3 separate regions of the Homo sapiens genome follow, and all the other regions are linked to region 1. The links come from fine-mapping of genetic effects on gene expression. A gene starts in region 1. Each other region holds a variant in brackets. All regions are shown on one strand. Distances are from middle to middle. Region 1 holds the start of NDUFA6-DT (NDUFA6 divergent transcript). Region 2 overlaps XRCC6 (X-ray repair cross complementing 6). Region 3 overlaps WBP2NL (WBP2 N-terminal like).

Region 1 (6,222 bases):
ATATTCTCTGTGCACCACCTCTGTGCATTTCTCCCCACTCCCAGCCCCTGCCATCTTTTTTATTGTCTCCATAGTTTTGCCTTTTCCAGGATGTAATATAGTTGGAATCATACAGTATGTAGCTCTTTCAGATTGTCTTCTTTCACTTACTAATATGCATTTAAGGTTTCTCCATGCCTTTTCATGGCTTAATAGCTCATTTCTTTCTAGTGCTGAATATAGTCCATTGTCTGGATATACCAAGGTTTATTTATCCATTTACCTGCTAAAGGACATCTTGGTTGCTTTCAAGTTTTGGCAATTACAAATAAAGCTGCTGCTGGCCGGGAGCGGTGGCTCACGCCTGTAGTCCCAGAACTTTGGGAGGCCAAGGCGGGCAGATCACGAGGTCAGGAGATCGAGACCATCCTGGCTAACATGGTGAAACCCCGTCTCTACTTAAAATACAAAAAATTAGCTGGGCTTCGTGGCAGGCGCCTGTAGTCCCAGCTACTTGGAGGCTGAGGCAGGAGAATGGCGTGAACCCAGGAGGCAGAGCTTCCAGTGAGCCGAGATCGCGCCACTGCACTCCACCCTGGGTGACAGAGCGAGACTCCATCTCAAAAACAAAAACAAAAACAAAAGCTGCTGTAAACATCCATGTGCAGGTTTCTGTGTGGACATAAGTTTTCAGCTCATTTGGGTAAACACTAAGGAATGCAATGGCTGGATCTTCTGATGGGAGTATGTTTAGTTTTGTCAGAAAGCCAAACTGTCTTCCAAAGCTGCTGTACCATTTTGCGTTCCTACCAGTAAGGAGAGTTCCTGTTGCTTCACATCCTCACCAGCATTTGGTGTTGTCTCCCTTGCCCATTTCTAAACTTGGCTATTTGTCTTTTCATTACTGAGTTGTAAGAATTTTATGTATCCTAGATACAAGTCCCTTATGGAACATGTGATTTGCAAAAATTTTCTCCCAGTTTGTGGGTTGTTTAGAGGTCTTTTTTTTCTTTTCCTTTTGAGACAGGGTCTCACTCTGTCGCCCAGACTGGAGTCCAGCGGCGCAATCTTGGCTCACCGCAACCTCCACCTCGCGGGCTCAAGCGATCCTCCTGCCTCAGCCTCCCGAGTAGCTGAGATTACAGGTGCCCACCACCATGCCGGCTAATTTTTGTATTTTTAGTAGAGACGGGGGTTTCACCATGTTGGCCAGGCTGGTCTCGAACTCCTGACATCAGGTGATACACCTGCCTTGGCCTCCCAAAGTGTTGGGATTACAGGAGTGAGCCACTGCGCCCCATTTTTTTTTTGAATGTTGAACACAATGAATTTATCATGATAGTGGGTACTTCTGAAGGAGGCAGGGGTATACACAAGGTTAGAATCATACAGGTAGATATCATGGTATAGGTGCTGCGAGAGTCAGAAAACTGACTCTGGCACCAGCTGCCTGGGCTTCAACCCCAATGCTGTAAAGTAACTTAGTCTCTTTGTGCCTCAGTTTTCTCATCTATAAAATGAGTATATCAGCCGGGGGCAGTGGCTCACACCTGTAATCCCAGCACTTTGGGAGGCTGAGGTGGGTGGATCACCTGAAGTCAGGAGTTTGAGACCAGCCTGGCCAACATAGCAAAACCCCGTCTCTACTAAAATACAAGCATTAGCCATGCATGGTGGTGCGCACCTGTAATCCCAGCGATTCGGAAAGCTGAGGCAGGAGAATGGCTTGAACATGAGAGGCGGAGGTTGCAGTGAGCCGAGATTGCACCATTGCAGTCCAGCCTAGGTGAGTCTCACTCTGTCTCAAAAAAAAAAAAAAAAAAGGGTATATCAACACAATCTCACTGGTGTGTTGTGAAGCCTAGCCAAGTTAATGTACCTAGAGAACTAGAGAACAGTGGCTACTAAGGACATCTAAGGACACTTTATACAAACCTTAACTGTGTTACAACTTCTTAAGTCAGTACTGAGGTTCAAAAGCTTCCATTTTATTATTATGCTTTATAATTTATATATGTTACGTGCTTTCTTTTGTATAGCTCACTTGAATATATATATACATTTTAGAAGATAATAAGGAAGAAAAAAAGTATATCTGGTTTTTTAACCCTTCGAAATGGGAAAGTTTGGAGTAGATGCTCAGCCCCGGCCCCTGGCCCTTCCCCAATACTCACAGGCTCCTGTCAACTACACCTTCAGAAAAAGACGGAGCCTCTTAGGCAGCAGTCAGGCAGGTGGGGGCGATCTGTCAGGTGACCTAGACTCTGGGCCATCTCAGTTTCCTCACCTGTAAAATGGGGATGCTGAGGTACCTACCTGACCTATGAGAGCGGAGAACACTGAGATATCTTGCCCATGGCCTGCCCTGTGGTTAGCTGTCGTTTTTTCCTTGACACTTGTAGGCTCCTCTTCATGTTTACATAACCTCAGTGGGAAAACGCCAGCGAAGAGAGACACTCAGAATGGACGATCTAAAGTTCCTTCCAGCTTCCAAATTCTGGGCTGGTTTTCAGAGATCCAGGGCTCGGGATGCGAATGTCCCTGTCTACGATGGGGCTGCCGTTACAGCCTTCCTCCCGGGGCTCTGGAGACGCGCCAGCTCTTTGACACCTCTCCTGCGCTAAGGAAGAGTTGGTTTACAGAAAAGTAAGTATATCCTGGCCCTGCAGAAAGCCGCCAGGCGGCAGGACAAGCCCCACCGCAGCCCAGGCGCCATTATCTGCCTCAGCAGTTACCTCGGGGTCCCGCCACGAGGAGGTTCTTCAAGGCCTGCGCGCCCACGGACACTACCAAGGAGCGCGGCGGGCAGCCGGATAGCAGGACGCTGAGGGAAACCCCGCAGTCGCTCGGCGTCCCCGGCGCCAGCTCACGACCCAGCGACCTCCTGCGGCCCGAGCGTCCCCTGGCGGCAACGCCGGCTCGTTAGAGCGAGCGACAGATGGTGTAGTCCAAAGGCCAAGCGGCGTTTCTGTAGATGAGCATGCGCAGCACCCACCGTTCGCTCAGCCAGAGAGAGGCTTCCCAGCCAATCCGAGAGCCTCAGAGTCATCCTCCCGCCCACCCAGCATACAGGCGGGGCGTTCCTCCTTAGCCAATGGGAAAAGACATTCGCCCGCGGTCCGCACGCGCTGCTTGCAAAGGGGTGGGGTTGTGGAGTGGATGCTTTGGCAAGATGGCGGGGAGCGGCGTCCGCCAAGCTACTTCTACCGCCAGCACCTTCGTGAAGCCCATTTTCAGTCGGGACATGAACGAGGCCAAGCGGAGGGTGCGCGAGCTCTACCGCGCCTGGTATCGGGAGGTGCCGAACACTGGTGAGAGGTAGCGGCTTACGTGGGGACCCGGAGGCCGCCGCTCAAGGTCGTAGCCGGCCCGGCCGGGGTTTCTCATGGGCCCAGCTGAGGTCACCAACTTGGGCAGAGGCGACTGCGGGTGCTTCAGGGGAAGAGGGTCACCCGAGCCTACCATGGGCCGGACCTGGCGGCGGCGCGGTGGTCAGACCGGCCGTGCCTAGCATTCGTACGTGCTATCGGAGCTTTGGTCTCTTTTGTCCTTCGCAATTGGCGGGAGGACGATGACTGTCAGTGACACACTCACTTTGTGGGTGAGGCAGCGGAGGCACCGAGAGGTGAAGTGATGTGCCCAGGGCCCAGGCCGAGCCACTGTTGTACCCAGAACCCAAAGTCTAGAGTTGCAGAGTGTAATTATAGATGCCCGTTGGATTTTTTTGTTTGTGACAGAGTCTCGCTGTGTCGCTCAGGCTGGAGTGCAGTGGTGCGATCTCGGCTCACTGCAAGCTCCGCCTCCCGGATTCACGTCATTCTCCTGCCTCAGCCTCAGCCTCCCGAATAGCTGGGATTACAGGCGCCCGCCACCACGCCGGCCATTTTTTTTTGTATTTTTAGTAGAGACGGGATTTCACCGTGTTAGCCAGAATGGTCTCGATCTCCTGACCTCGTGATCCGCCCGTCTCGGCCTCCCAAAGTGCGAGAAAGAGGTGTTTTTGAGTGAGCTGGAGCACGGTGCCACTCCTCAGGGCTGTCGAGTCCCTGCTTGTGTGTGTGAAAAGGCGGTAGAATGTGGTGGTTAGGAGCACGGACTTTTCTTCAGGCGCTGCCCTCAACTAGCTGTGTGACCTTGGGCCAGTTATTTCATCTATTCCTCAGTTTCTTCATCTTTAAAATGGGAATAATAATTCCTTCTTCAGAAGGTTACTGTATTAAGTTAAAATATCTAGAGTGCTTAGAACAGGACTTGATGCATATTTAACTCATTAAATATTAGCTGCTGCCGTTGTTTTTGTTGTTATTTTTGTTATTTATAGGGCTTTCCTTAGCAGCAGCTTCCAAGCAGAACCCGGTTCTTTGACATATGAGAACTGTGTCTGCTCCACAGAGTCCCTGTCTTCAAGCTGACTTTTGGAAAAATTGCTACTGACCAGAACTTAAACCCACGCGATACTAGAGAAGGAGAAACTTGAGTGATCTGCTGGTTCAGGGACTGCAAATTCAGATGCCTTCAGGGGCAGGCAGATAAAAGATGTGTGTGGGGAGTGACTGTAGCAGTGTGTGTGTGTGTGTGTGTGTGTGTGTTTCGGGGTGGTGCATTCAAATTCAGCAGTTTGAAAACATAATGTTTGCCTGGCAGAATACTTCTAGGAGTACCCAGAACCCTCTCTGGTTGCAGGAGGAAGGTGCTGGGGGAAGGAGGACCACATTCAAAAAGGGTGGCTTGTGAAGGGTAAATCAGTGGCCAAGTAGAAGACAGAACCCAGGTATCCTGACTCTGAGGATCCAGCTCTTTCTAAACCGACCCCTCCCAAGACCTTCCCTCAAATTCTGTTTTGGGAAGAAAGTCCCAAAGTCAGAAGGGTCTTGAGAGGAGGAAAAGAAGGCAGAGGGCTACAGGAGCCTAGAAAGCAAGGGAAGAGGAGAGAAAAGAAGGGGTCAAGGAGTATGCATCCCTATGGGGAAGATCAGTGATCTGTAGCTGGCCAGTTACTCAAACCTGTGCCACACGGGTTTTATGGTATCCATCATCAGGACTCCAGCTGAGGAATCAAATCAAGGAAGGGGAATAAGTAATAGTGTTGAGAACTTAGAACAGCCTGAGCATTAATAAAAAACAAAAGTAAAATTTTAAGTATTTAATGAAAAAAACAGTAATGATAACTCACTTTTTTTTTTTTTTTTTTTTTTGAGACAGAGTCTCGCTCTTGTCTCCCAGGCTGGAGGGCAATGGCGCGATCTTGGCTCACTGCAACCTCCACCTCCCGGGTTCAAGTGATTTCCCCATGCCTCAGCCTCCCGAGTAGCTGGGATTATAGTTGCGTGCCACCACACCTGGCTAACTTTTGTATTTTTAGTAGAAACGGGGTTTCACCATGTTGGCCAGGCTGTCTTGAACTCCTGACCTCAGGTGATCCACCTGCCTTGGCCTCCCAAAGTGCTGGGATTACAGGCGTGAGCCACCGCGCCCAGCTAATAAAATAATAATTATTTTTTTTGAGACGGAGTCTCGCTCTGTCGCCCAGGCCGGACTGCGGACTGCAGTGGCGCAATCTCGGCTCACTGCAAGCTCCGCTTCCCGGGTTCACGCCATTCTCCTGCCTCAGCCTCCTGAGTAGCTGGGACTACAGGCGCCCGCCACCGCGCCCGGCTAATTTTTTGTATTTTTAGTAGAGACGGGGTTTCACCTTGTTAGCCAGGATGGTCTCGATCTCCTGACCTCATGATCCACCCGCCTCGGCCTCCCAAAGTGCTGGGATTACAGGCGTGAGCCACCGCGCCCAGCCTTTTTTTTTTTTTTTTTTTGAGACACAGTCTCACTCTGTCACCCAGGCTGGAATGCAGTGGCCCATCTCAGCTCACTGCACCCTCCACCTCCCGGGTTCAAGTGATTCTCCTGCCTCAGTCTCCCGAGTAGCTGGGATTACAGGCACCCACCACCATGCCCGGCTCATGTTTGTATTTTTAGTGGAGACGGGGTTTCACCATGTTGGCCAGGCTGGTCTTGAACTCCTGACCTCAGGTGATCCACCTGCCTTGGCCTCCCAAAGTGCTGGGATTACAGGCGTGAGCCACCGCGCCCAGCTAATAAAATAATTATTATTTTTTTTGAGACGGAGTCTCGCTCTGTCACCCAGGCTGGAGTGCAGTGGTGCGACCTCGGCTCACTGCAAGGTCCACCTCCCGGGTTCACACCATTCTCCTGCCTCAGCCTCCCGAGTAGCTGGAATTACAGGCA
Region 2 (5,000 bases), 460 kb after region 1:
ACAACAATCCACATGGCAAGTAGTCATTTCCATAAATATTTTAATCTACTCTGAGGAGTCTACAAACTTTTAAAAGAATCTGGTAAGGGCTCCTTTTAGGTTCTAAAAATTAAAAACAAAAACTAAAACAGAATTTTAGAAAATGTTTTCTATTGCTTATCAACTACTGAATACTTATTATCGGTTATCAAATTGTGCTCATCTATGAATGTCTCATTTCCTTCCTACCTAACACTACATTTTCTTCTGAGGTCTTTAGGCATCAAGGGTTCCATTAACTCTCTGAAATTACAGGTAGAATTGTGAGTACTATCTTTTTTGAGGGGAAGGTATGTAGCTGTCATCATATCCTCAAAGAGGTCCACGGTTGGCCAGGTGCGGTGGCTCATGCCTGTAATCCCAGCACTTTGGGAGGCCGAAGTGGGCAGATCACGAGGTCAGGAGATGGAGACCATCCTGGCTAACATGGTGAAACCCCATCTCTACTAAAAAACAAGAACAAAAAATTAGCCGGGTGTGGTGGTGGGTGCCTGTAGTCCCAGCTACTCAGGAGGCTGAGGCAGGAGAATGGTGTGAACCCAGGAGGCAGAGCTTGCAGTGAGCCAAGAGCCAGGGCAGCAAAGCGAGACTCCGTCTCAAAAAAAAAAAAAAATAGGTCCACGGTCTAAAAAAGGTTAAAGCACTGCTCTTCAAAGTAATGGTCTCCAAATCAGTAACATCAGCATCACCTGACAATTTACTAGAAATGCAAATTCTTGGTCCCCATTCTAGACATAGAGAATCAGAAATTTTGATTGTGGGGCAAGGTTCTGTAGTCTGTGTTTTAATGTCCTGCAAGTAATTCTGTTTGAGAACCACTTTAAATTAACGATTGTTTTTATTCATAGTTCTATTATTTTATTTTACATACACTTTTTTTTTTTGAGACAGAGTCTGGCTCTATTGCCCAGGCTGGACTGCAATAGTGCCATCTCGGCTCACTGCAACCTCTGCCTCCCAGGTGCAAGCGATTCTCCTGCCTCAGCCTCTGGAGTAGCTGAGACTACAGGCGCACGCCACCACACCCAGCTAATTTTTGTATTTTTAGTAGAGACGAGGTTTCACCATTTTGGCCAGGATGGTTTTGATCTCTTGACCTCGTGATCCGCCCACCTCGGCCTCCCAAAGTGCTGGGATTACAGGCATGAGCCACCGCGCCCAGCCTTTTCTTTTTTTTTTTTTTTCCAAGAGACAGGGTCTTACTCTGTTGCCCAGGCTAGAGTTCACTGGCACAATCATAGCTCAGTGCAGCCTCAAACTCCTGGGCTCAAGCAATCCTCTCACCCCGGCCTCCTGAGTAGCTGGGACTACAAGTGCACACCACCACACCCAGCTTATTCTTTTTTTTTGGTGCAAGATATTCTGGTGTGCCAACTACAAGAACTATTTCTTGTTTTCTTGAGATGGAGTCTCTCTCTGTCACCCAGGATGGAGTGCAGTGGCGTGATCCTGGCTCACTGCAACGTCCACCTCCCCAGTTCAAGCAATTCTCCTGCCTCAGCCTCCTGAATAGCTGCAACTACAGGCCTGCACTACCATGCCCGGCTAATTTTTGTATTTTGAGTAGAGACAGAATTTCACCATGTTGGCCAGGCTGGTCTCGAACTCCTGACCTCAAGTGATTCACTCACCTCAGCCTCCCAAAGTGCTGGGATTACAGGCGTGAGCCACCACACCCTGCCTACCAAGAACTATTTGTACACAAATTAGAACATGAAAAGTTTCTGTTCAGTTCCAAATTCTAAAATTATGAGACATGAGATATATAATAAATCTGTGAAAATTCTTCTCTACGAAGTACACAAAAGAAACAGTAATCCCTCTCCCTCTCCCTCTCCCTATCCCTCTCCCCACGGTCTCCCTCTCCCCACGGTCTCCCTCTCCCTCTCTTTCCACGGTCTCCCTCTGATGCCGAGCCGAAGCTGGACTGTACTGCTGCCATCTCGGCTCACTGCAACCTCCCTGCCTGATTCTCCTGCCTCAGCCTGCCGAGCACCTGCGATTGCAGGCGCGTGCCGCCACGCCTGACTGGTTTTCGTATTTTTTTGGTGGAGACGGGGTTTCGCTGTGTTGGCCAGGCTGGTCTCCAGCTCCTAACCGCGAGTGATCCGCCAGCCTCGGCCTCCGGAGGTGCCGGGATTGCAGACGGTGTCTGGTTCACTCAGTGCTCAATGGTGCCCAGGCTGGAGTACAGTGGTGTGATCTCGGCTTGCTACAACCTCCACCTCCCAGCCGCCTGCCTTGGCCTCCC[A/G]AAGTGCCCAGAGTGCAGCCTCTGCCCGGCCGCCACCCCGTCTGGGAAGTGAGGAGTGTCTCTGCCTGGCCGCCCATCGTCTGGGATGTGAGGAGCCCCTCTGCCTGGCTGCCCAGTCTGGAAAGTGAGGAGCGTCTCTGCCCAGCCGCCATCCCATCTAGGAAGTGAGGAGCGTCTCTGCCCGGCCGCCCATCGTCTGAGATGTGGGGAGCGCCTTTGCCCCGCCGCCCCGTCTGGGATGTGAGGAGCGCCTCTGCCCAGCCGTGACCCCGTCTGGGAGGTGAGGAGCGTCTCTGCCCAGCCGCCCCATCTGAGAAGGGAGGAGACCCTCCACCCGGCAACCGCCCCGTCGGAGAAGTGAGGAGCCCCTCTGTCCGGGAGCCGCCCCGTCTGAGAAGTGAGGAGCCCCTCCGCCCGGCAGCCACCCCATCTGGGAAGTGAGGAGCCTCTCCGCCCAGCAGCCGACCCGTCCGGGAGGGAGGTGGGGGGTCAGCCCCAGCCAGGCCAGCCGCCCCATCCGGGAGGTGAGGGGCGCCTCTGCCCAGCCGCCCCTACTGGGAAGTGAGGAGCCCCTCTGCCTGGCCAGCCGCCCCGTCCGGGAGGGAGGTGGGGGGGTCAGCCCCCCGCCCTGCCAGCCGCCCCGTCCAGGAGGGAGGTGGGGGGGTCATCCCCCCACCCGGCCAGCAGCCCTGTCCGGGAGGTGAGGGGCGCCTCTGCCCGGCCGCCCCTACTGGGAAGTGAGGAGCCCCTCTGCCCAGCCACCACCCCGTCTGGGAGGTGTGCCCAACAGCTCATTGAGAACGGGCCATGATGACAATGGTGGTTTTGTGGAATAGAAAGCGGGGAAAGGTGGGGAAAAGATTGAGAAATCGGATGGTTGCCGTGTCTGTGTGGAAAAAAGTAGACATGGGAGACTTTTCATTTTGTTCTGTACTAAGAAAAATTCTTCTGCCTTGGGATCCTGTTGATCTGTGACCTTACCCCACAACCCTGTGCTCTCTGAAACATGTGCTGTGTCCACTCAGGGTTAAATGGATTGAAGGCAGCATGCTCGTTAAGAGTCATCACCACTCCCTAATCTCAAGTACCCAGGGACACAAACACTGCGGAAGGCCTCAGGGTCCTCTGCCTAGGAAAACCAGAGACCTTTGTTCACTTGTTTATCTGCTGACCTTCCCTCCACTATTGTCCTATGACCCTGCCAAATCCCCCTCTGTGAGAAACACCCAAGAATGATCAATAAAAAAAATAAATTAAAAAAAAAAAAAAAGAAACACTAATCTTTTTAATTAAGCTGAAATTTAGATTTTCTAAGTGAACAATTAAGAGGTATTTAATACATTCACAATGTGCCAGGCATAGTGGCACATGCCTTAACCCCAGCCACACAGGAGGCTGAGGTGGGTGGATTGCTTGAGCCCAGGAGTTCCAAACCAGCCTGAGCAATAGTGAGACACCATCTCAAAAAAAAAAAGCAAGGCCGGGTGCCATGGCTCACGCCTGCAATCCCAGCACTTTGGAAGGCCGAGGCGAGCAGATCACGAGGTCAGGGGTCCAAGACCATCCTGGCCAATATGGTGAAACCCCATCTCTACTAAAAATACAAAAATTAGCTGGGCATGGTGACACGTGCCTGTAATCTCACCTACTCGGGAGGCTGAGGCAGGAGAATCGCTTGAACCAGGGAGTCAGAGGTTGTAGTGAGCCAAGATTGTGCCACTGCACTCCAGCCTGGTGACAGAGCGAGACTCCAACTCAAAAAAAAAAAAAAAAAAAGCATAAATGCACACACAAGGCTGGGCGCAGTGGCTCACACCTGTAATCCCAGCACTTTGGGAGGCCGAGGCAGGCGGATCACTTCAGGAGATTGAGACCATCCTGGCTAACACGGTGAAACCCCGTCTCTACTAAAAACACAAAAAATTAGCCAGGCATGGTGGCAGGTGCCTGTAGTCCCAGCTACTCTGGAGGCTAAGGTAGGAGAATGGCATGAACCCGGGAGGCGGAGCTTGCAGTGAGCCAAGATCACGCCACTGCACTACAGCCCGGGTGACAGAGCGAGACTCCGTCTCAAAAATAATAATAAAAATAAATAAATAAATAAATACACACACAAACATTCACAATGTTGTGCAACTACCAACTCTAGTTCCAAAAAATTTTCATCACCCCAAAAGCAAACCCCATACCCATTGAGCAGTTGCTCCCTGTTCCTCTCTTCCCTGTGCCTCAGGTAACCAACCACCCCTCTGCGTTAAGAACTTACCTATTCTGGATATTTCATGTAAATGAAATCATACAATATTTGACTTTTTGTATCTGGCTTCTTTCACTTAGCATAATACTTTCAAGATTCATCTACTTTGTAGTATGTATCAATTATTCATTCCTTTTCATGGAATGTATATCTATATGCCACTGTTTAGCCATTCAAAATGTTTTGGAATAAGATAGAGGTGGTGGCTGCATAACATTGTGAATGTGTTAAGTGTCACTGAATTGTATACTTTCAAATAGTTAATTTTATGTTACATGAAACACAACCTCAATTTAAAGAAACAAGAACAGGTCAGGTACAGTCAATCACGCCAATTTCTCCACAGCCTTGCCAACACTTATTTTCTGCTGGTGTTTTTTAAATTTTAGTTTGTTTATATAGTGGGTGTGAGTGGTAGCTCATTATGGTTTTCATTTGCCTTTCTCTAATGAC
Region 3 (6,222 bases), 67 kb after region 1:
ATAACTGGGAATTATAATGGAAGGAAAAAAATTCAGTTACCTTTAAGTCAAGGAATATGTGAGAAGGAAGAACTTAAAAAATAATGCTGAAGCAAACTGACGCAAGAAGAGAAGTCAGGCAGAATAATGCTAAAGCTATTTCCTCTAGCTATCACCAATTGAAGGCATATCACTTCCTGTTGTGCAGGGATTCAAATCAACATGAAAACAACCCTATCAATAGATCGGTGCGTTACTTATACTCTTGCACAGATATGTGTTTTACTTAATAAAGTTTGATTATGAAAAAAAGTAATACATGCTTAATGAGGAATATGCGTTTGGAAAATAGAGAAAAGAGGAATGGAAAAAAGCCATCTATAATTCTACCATTGAACACTTACTATTTTGGTGTATTTCTTTGTAGAATCTCTGTGAATATTCTTTATATAATCATGATCATATCAGCCATATTATTATTATTATTATTATTATTATTATTATTATTATTATTATTTTGAGAGGGGGTCTCGCTCTGTTGCCCAGGCTGGAGTGCAGTGGCGCGATCTTGGCTCACTGCAAGCTCTGCCTCCTGGGTTCATGCCATTCTCCCACCTCAGCCTCCCGAGTAGCTGGGACTACAAGCACCCGCCACCATGCCCAGCTAATTTTTTTGTATTTTTAGTAGAGACAGGGTTTCACCATGTTAGCCAGGATGGTCTCGATCTCCTGACCTCATGATCCACCCGCCTCGGCCTCCCAAAGTGCTGGGATTACAGGCGTGAGCCACTGCGCCCGGCCAGCCATATGATTTTTTAAATCTGGCTCTTTTACTTAATATTATAAGAAATGTCTTCATATTGTTAATTTACTTCATAAATTCAAAGCTGGATAATATTTCATCATATGGATAGATGACTCTTTTTGTTGTTTCTGACTTTCCAATTAACCTTACAATAAACATGAGTTTTACTTATTACCTTGGGTTACATTCCCCAAAGTGATTTAACTGGATAAAGTGAATGGACAGCTGTAAAGTTATTTTGCTTTAATCCAAAATTTATTACAAAACTACTGTAATCAAGACAGTGTTTTACTGGCACAAGGACAGACTTAGAGACCAATGGAATGAATTAAGAGTCCAGAAATAAACCCAAGCATCTATGAACAGTTGATTTTTGACAGAATGCCAAGACCATTCAATGGGAAAAAAACAGTCTCTTCAAAAAATGATTCTGGGACAACTGGATATCTGCACGTAAAAGAATGAGGTTCTTCCCTCACTTCACTCTACAGATAAAAATTAACTTGTAGTGAATCAATGGCCTTAATATAAAACAGAGGTGGCCAATCTTTTGGCTTCCCTGGGCCACATTGGTGAAGAATTGTCTTGGGCCACATATAAAATATACTAACACTAACGATAGCTGATGAGCTATTTTTAAAAATCTCATAACATTTGAAGAAAGTTTATGAATTTGTGTTGGGCTGCATTCAAAGCCATCCTGGGCCATGGGTTGGACAAGCTTGATATAAGAGCTAAAACTATAAAATGCTTAGAAGAAAACAGGGATAAATCTTCATGACATTGGATTTGGCAACGAATTCTCACATTTTACATCAAAAGCATGAGCAACAAGAGGAAAAAAGAGAAATCTGATAAAAATTAAAAACCTTTGTGCATTAAAAGCCATTTTTGCCTGGGCACAGTTGTTCACACCTGTAACCCACTGGCCGAGGCAGGCAGATCATTTGAGCTCAGGAGTTCTAGATGAGTCTGAACAACATGGTGAAACTACATCTCTACTAAAAATACAAAGATTAGCTGTGCAGGGTGGCACACACCCGCAGTCCCAGCTATTCAGGAGGCTGAGGCACAAGAATCACTTAAACCCGGGAGGCAGAGATTGCAGTGAGCCAAGATGGCGCCACTGCACTCCAGCCTGGGTGACAGAGGGAGACTTTGTCTCAAAAAAAAAAAAAAAAAGTCATTATCAAGAATGTGAAAGAAAACCTAAAAATATTTACAAATAATATATCTGACAAGGATTTCATATCCAGACTATATAAAGAATGCTTACAACTCAACAACAAAAAGACAAGCAATCCGATTTAAATAATAAAAAAAATAGGCAAAAGACTTGGACAGTTCTCCAATTAAGGTATATAAAAAGCACATTAAAAGATGTTCAACATCATTAGTCATTAAGGAAATGCAAATTAAAACCACAATGAGATACCACTTCATACCCACTAGAATGGCTTTAATATAGATTTTTTTTTTT[A/T]AAAAAAGGAAGATAAGTGTTGCTGAGGATGTGTAGAAATAGGAACACTTACATTTACACAGGAATGTAAAATAGTGCAGCACTGGAAAATAGTTGGTGGTTCCTCAAAAAGTTAGAGAATTTACATATGACCCAGAAATTCCACTCCAAGATGCATATCCAGGAGAAATGAAAACATATGTCTACGTAGAAAATTATATACAAATGCTCATAGCAGCTAGTATTCGTAATAGCCAAAAGGTGGAAACAAGACAAATGTCCATCAATGGAGGAATGAATACACAAATTGTGGTATATATGTACAATGGAGTATTATTCAGCCAGGAAAAGAAATGAAGTATTGCTACATGCTACAACTTGGAGGAACCTCAAAAACGTTATCTTGAGTGAGATAAGCCAAACACAAAAGGTCACATATTGTATGATTTCTTTTATGTGATATATTCACAATAGGTGAATCAATAAAGACAGAAAGCAGATTAGAGGATACCAGGGGATCAGAGAGGGGACAATGGGGAATAACTTCTTAGTGGCTATTAGGTGATAAAAAGTTTTGAAACCAGACCAGATGCTGTGGCTTACACCTGTAATCCCAGCACTTTGGGAAGCCAAGGCAATAGACTTGCTTGAGCCCAGGAGTGTGAGACCAGCCTAAGCAACACAGTGAGACCCTGTATCTACAAAATTTTTTTAAAAAAAAAGGCTGGCAGGGGCTGGGTGTGGTGGCTCAAGCCTGTAATCCCAGCACTTTGGGAGGCTGAGGCGGGCGGATCACAAGGTCAGGAGATCGAGACCATCCTGGCTAACACAGTGAAATCCCGTCTCTACTAAAAATACAAAAAAAAAATTAGCCGGGCGTGGTGGCGGGCGCCGGTAGTCCCAGCTACTCAGGAGGCTGAGGCAGGAGAATGGCGTGAACCCGGGAGGTGGAGCTTGCATCGCGCCACTGCACTCCAGCCTGGGCGACAGAGCAAGACTCCCTCTCAAAAAAACAAAAACAAAAACAAAAAAGGCTGCCAGAGATGGCTCATGCCTATAATCCCAGCACCTCGGGAGGGCAAGGCGGGCAGATGGCTGGAGGCCAGGAGTTCAGAACCAGCCTGGACAACATAGGGAGATTTCTGTCTCTACAAAAACACATAAAAATTAGCCGGGCATGGTGGATTGCGCCTGTGGTCCTAGCCTACTCTGGTTGGGGGGTACTGAGGTAAGAGGATCGCTTGAGCCCAGGGGGTCGAGGCTGCAGGGGGCCATGATAGTGCCACTGCACTACAGCCTGGGTGACAAAGTGAGACTCTGTCTCCAAAAAAAAAAAACACCACTTTTTGAAACTAGAGACAGCTGGTGGATGTATAATATTGTGAATACGTCAAATACTGCTAAATTTTACACTAAATACCACTGAATTGTACACATTAAAATGTTAATTATATGTTATGTGAATTTCACCAACTGAAAAAATGTTAAACCCTAGCAACAATTACTTTAGATTCTGAATATTAGACTGTAATAACCTTTAAAAACCAAGGTACCTATTAAGGTTACAAATAAGTAGCCTTTAAGTTACATACAAAACTAAAGGCCCATGGACATGCATATCAAGTTCCAAGGAGAACTCAAGAAAAGTCCCATATTTTTGTGTGTGTTGGCAGCATTAGGAGACCCTTGGTGGCCCACCAGTAGGCAGTGGACCATGTTTGAGAATTACTTTCCAGAAACCCCATTCAGTAGCAGTGGACTTTAACAACACAAACTGTTAAAGGACCCAGGGCTCGAGTCCTCAGTAAGGTTGAAGGGTGTGGCACAGGTATGATGACTATGCTATGTGAAATGGAAACAAGGAAGTGGGCAAGAGCATATATTTTCTGCTCAGGCTATAAACAGGAAGTGACCCTTCCCACTAACAGGATTGCCAAGTATGTTCCAGGTTTGTATATATCATTAAAAGTAAGCCTGAAACCAAAGCCCAGTCACTTGCTGACTTTGCCACTGGGTTTCAGTCTGGAAACAAAGTCACAGATGTGACCATTTTCCAAGCCCCTAAAGCTCTGCTGCTGCTCCTGCAGGGAGCAAGCCTGCAAGGGATAGATCTTTGAGCCTCTGGCATAATTTTCCACCTTCCAGGAAGAACCTCTCTGCCATACCTTACCTGAACAAGGCATCTGTGGAGTGCACATATTCCCTTCCCCAGTAATTACATAAATTCCCATAGAGCTGAACCAGTCATTTAAGGTTCTAAGTGGAAATCCTCGGGCAGCTGGAAAGACAAATTTGGCAAAATAGGAACTCTTTTAATTAAGTCAGATATATAGCAGATATCAACTAAACAATTAACAGAGTATTTAATCACCACCTTACATGTGTTTCCAACAATGCTCTTGAGACACAAGATAAAAAAGAAACATGGGCTGGGTGAAGTGGCTCACACCTGTAATCCCAACATTTTAGGAGGCCAAGATGGGAGGATTGCTTGACCCCAGGAGTTCAAGACCAGCCTGGGCAACATGGCAAGACCCTATCTCTACAAAAAATTTTTTAAAAATTAGCCAGGCATGGTGGTGCATGCCTGTGGTCCTAGCTACTCAGGAAGCTGAGGCAGGAGGATTGCTTGAGCCTGGAAATTTGAGGCTGCAGTGAGCCTTATCTGTGCCACTGCACTGGAGCCTCCAGCCTGGGTGACAGAGTAAGACCTTGTCTCAAAAAAAAAAAAAAAAAAGAAAGAAAGAAAAGAAATATGACCCTTGTCCTGAATGGCACGTGTCTTAAGGGCAGAGATTGTATCTCATTTGCCTGTGCTTATTCCAGGCCTAGCATAGCACCTAATCATAACAGATATTCAGAAAAAACTTCTAAGTGAGGATTCTACCAAGTTGGTAAGATATATCCATTAAAGACCAATGTGAGGAAGTGTGGTACCGAAGAAAACACTTTTGTCTTGTCTCCCCTCTGCATCTCTCTTATAAGAACACTTGTGATGGCATTTAGAGGCCACCTAAATAATCTAGGGTAATCTTGTCATCTCAAGATCCTTAAATTAATTACGTCTACAAACACCCTTTTTACAAATAACGTAACAGTCACAGATTCTGAGGATTGGGATGGGGATATATCTGGGGATCCATTATCAGCCTACCACACTGAGTTTTGCCTATGGCATGTGACCAGATGTAATGTAGACAGTTTCCAGGCCTGGCCCATAAAAATTTCCCAGGGGAGATCTTTATTTCCTTCTCTGCTGGCTGTACAAAGAGGCCATGGAAGCCATGGGTTAAAGATCGCAAGGACCGGCCAGGCGTGCTGGCTCACGCCTGTGATCCCAGCACTTTGGGAGGCTGAGGCAGGTGGATCTCCTGAGGTCAGGAGTTCGAGACCAGCCTGACCAACATGGTGAAACCCCGTCTCTACTAAAAATACAAAAATTAGCTGGGCTTGGTGGTGGACACTTGTAATCCCAGCTACTTGGGAGGCTGAGGGAGGAGAATCACTTGAACCCGGGAGGTGGAGGTTGCAGTGAGCCAAGATTGCATGATTGCACTCCAGCCTGGGTGACAAAGCAAGACACTGTCTCAAAAAAAAAAAAAAAAAAAAAAAAAAAAATATATATATATATATATATATATATATATATATATATATACACACACACACACACATATATGAGATAAAAAAATTATTTGTAGTCACAGTTTGAAAGAGTTCTGTGGTACATCCATTAGATCAGTGCTATAAGTCTTGACAGTACCTCTACTCCCCTCTCATGTAAGATGGGGACTAAACCTGAGAAAAGCAAAGGCAAGTCCAGAGAGAAGAAAAACTAAAAAGCCACACCAAAGAAAGAATAACTAAGGGCTCCCTGACCCAAGGAAGAGACGCTCAGTAGATATCTGAGGTCAGTGTTTAAATGGACAAAAGACTATCAGGTATAATTAGTCACCTGGGTGTCTGGCTGTAAGCTCCC

Evidence for each region.
Region 2: its variant is fine-mapped to the expression of NDUFA6-DT in whole blood (INTERVAL, PIP 0.95).
Region 3: its variant is fine-mapped to the expression of NDUFA6-DT in whole blood (TOPMed, PIP 0.97).

Annotation. Positions count from the first base shown.
Region 1 is chr22:42,087,674-42,093,895 of GRCh38, reverse strand. It overlaps NDUFA6-DT (NDUFA6 divergent transcript), which reads right to left and starts at 2,963. Exons shown (of 5, transcript NR_034118.2): 1 at 2,715-2,963; 2 at 2,296-2,599; 3 at 1,664-1,777. NDUFA6 (NADH:ubiquinone oxidoreductase subunit A6) reads left to right here and starts at 3,124. Exons shown (of 3, transcript NM_002490.6): 1 at 3,124-3,290. The coding sequence starts at 3,152.
Region 2 is chr22:41,629,050-41,634,049 of GRCh38, reverse strand. The region is part of intron 3 of XRCC6 (X-ray repair cross complementing 6); the gene reads right to left. Among named protein-coding and RNA genes, the nearest start is that of XRCC6, 10 kb to the right of the region's middle. RefSeq lists an enhancer at 2,992-3,645. The variant A/G (reference allele first, on the strand shown) is at 2,291.
Region 3 is chr22:42,020,548-42,026,769 of GRCh38, reverse strand. It overlaps WBP2NL (WBP2 N-terminal like), which reads right to left. Exons shown (of 6, transcript NM_152613.3): 5 at 4,414-4,521; 6 at 1-4. Among named protein-coding and RNA genes, the nearest start is that of WBP2NL, 25 kb to the right of the region's middle. The variant A/T (reference allele first, on the strand shown) is at 2,265.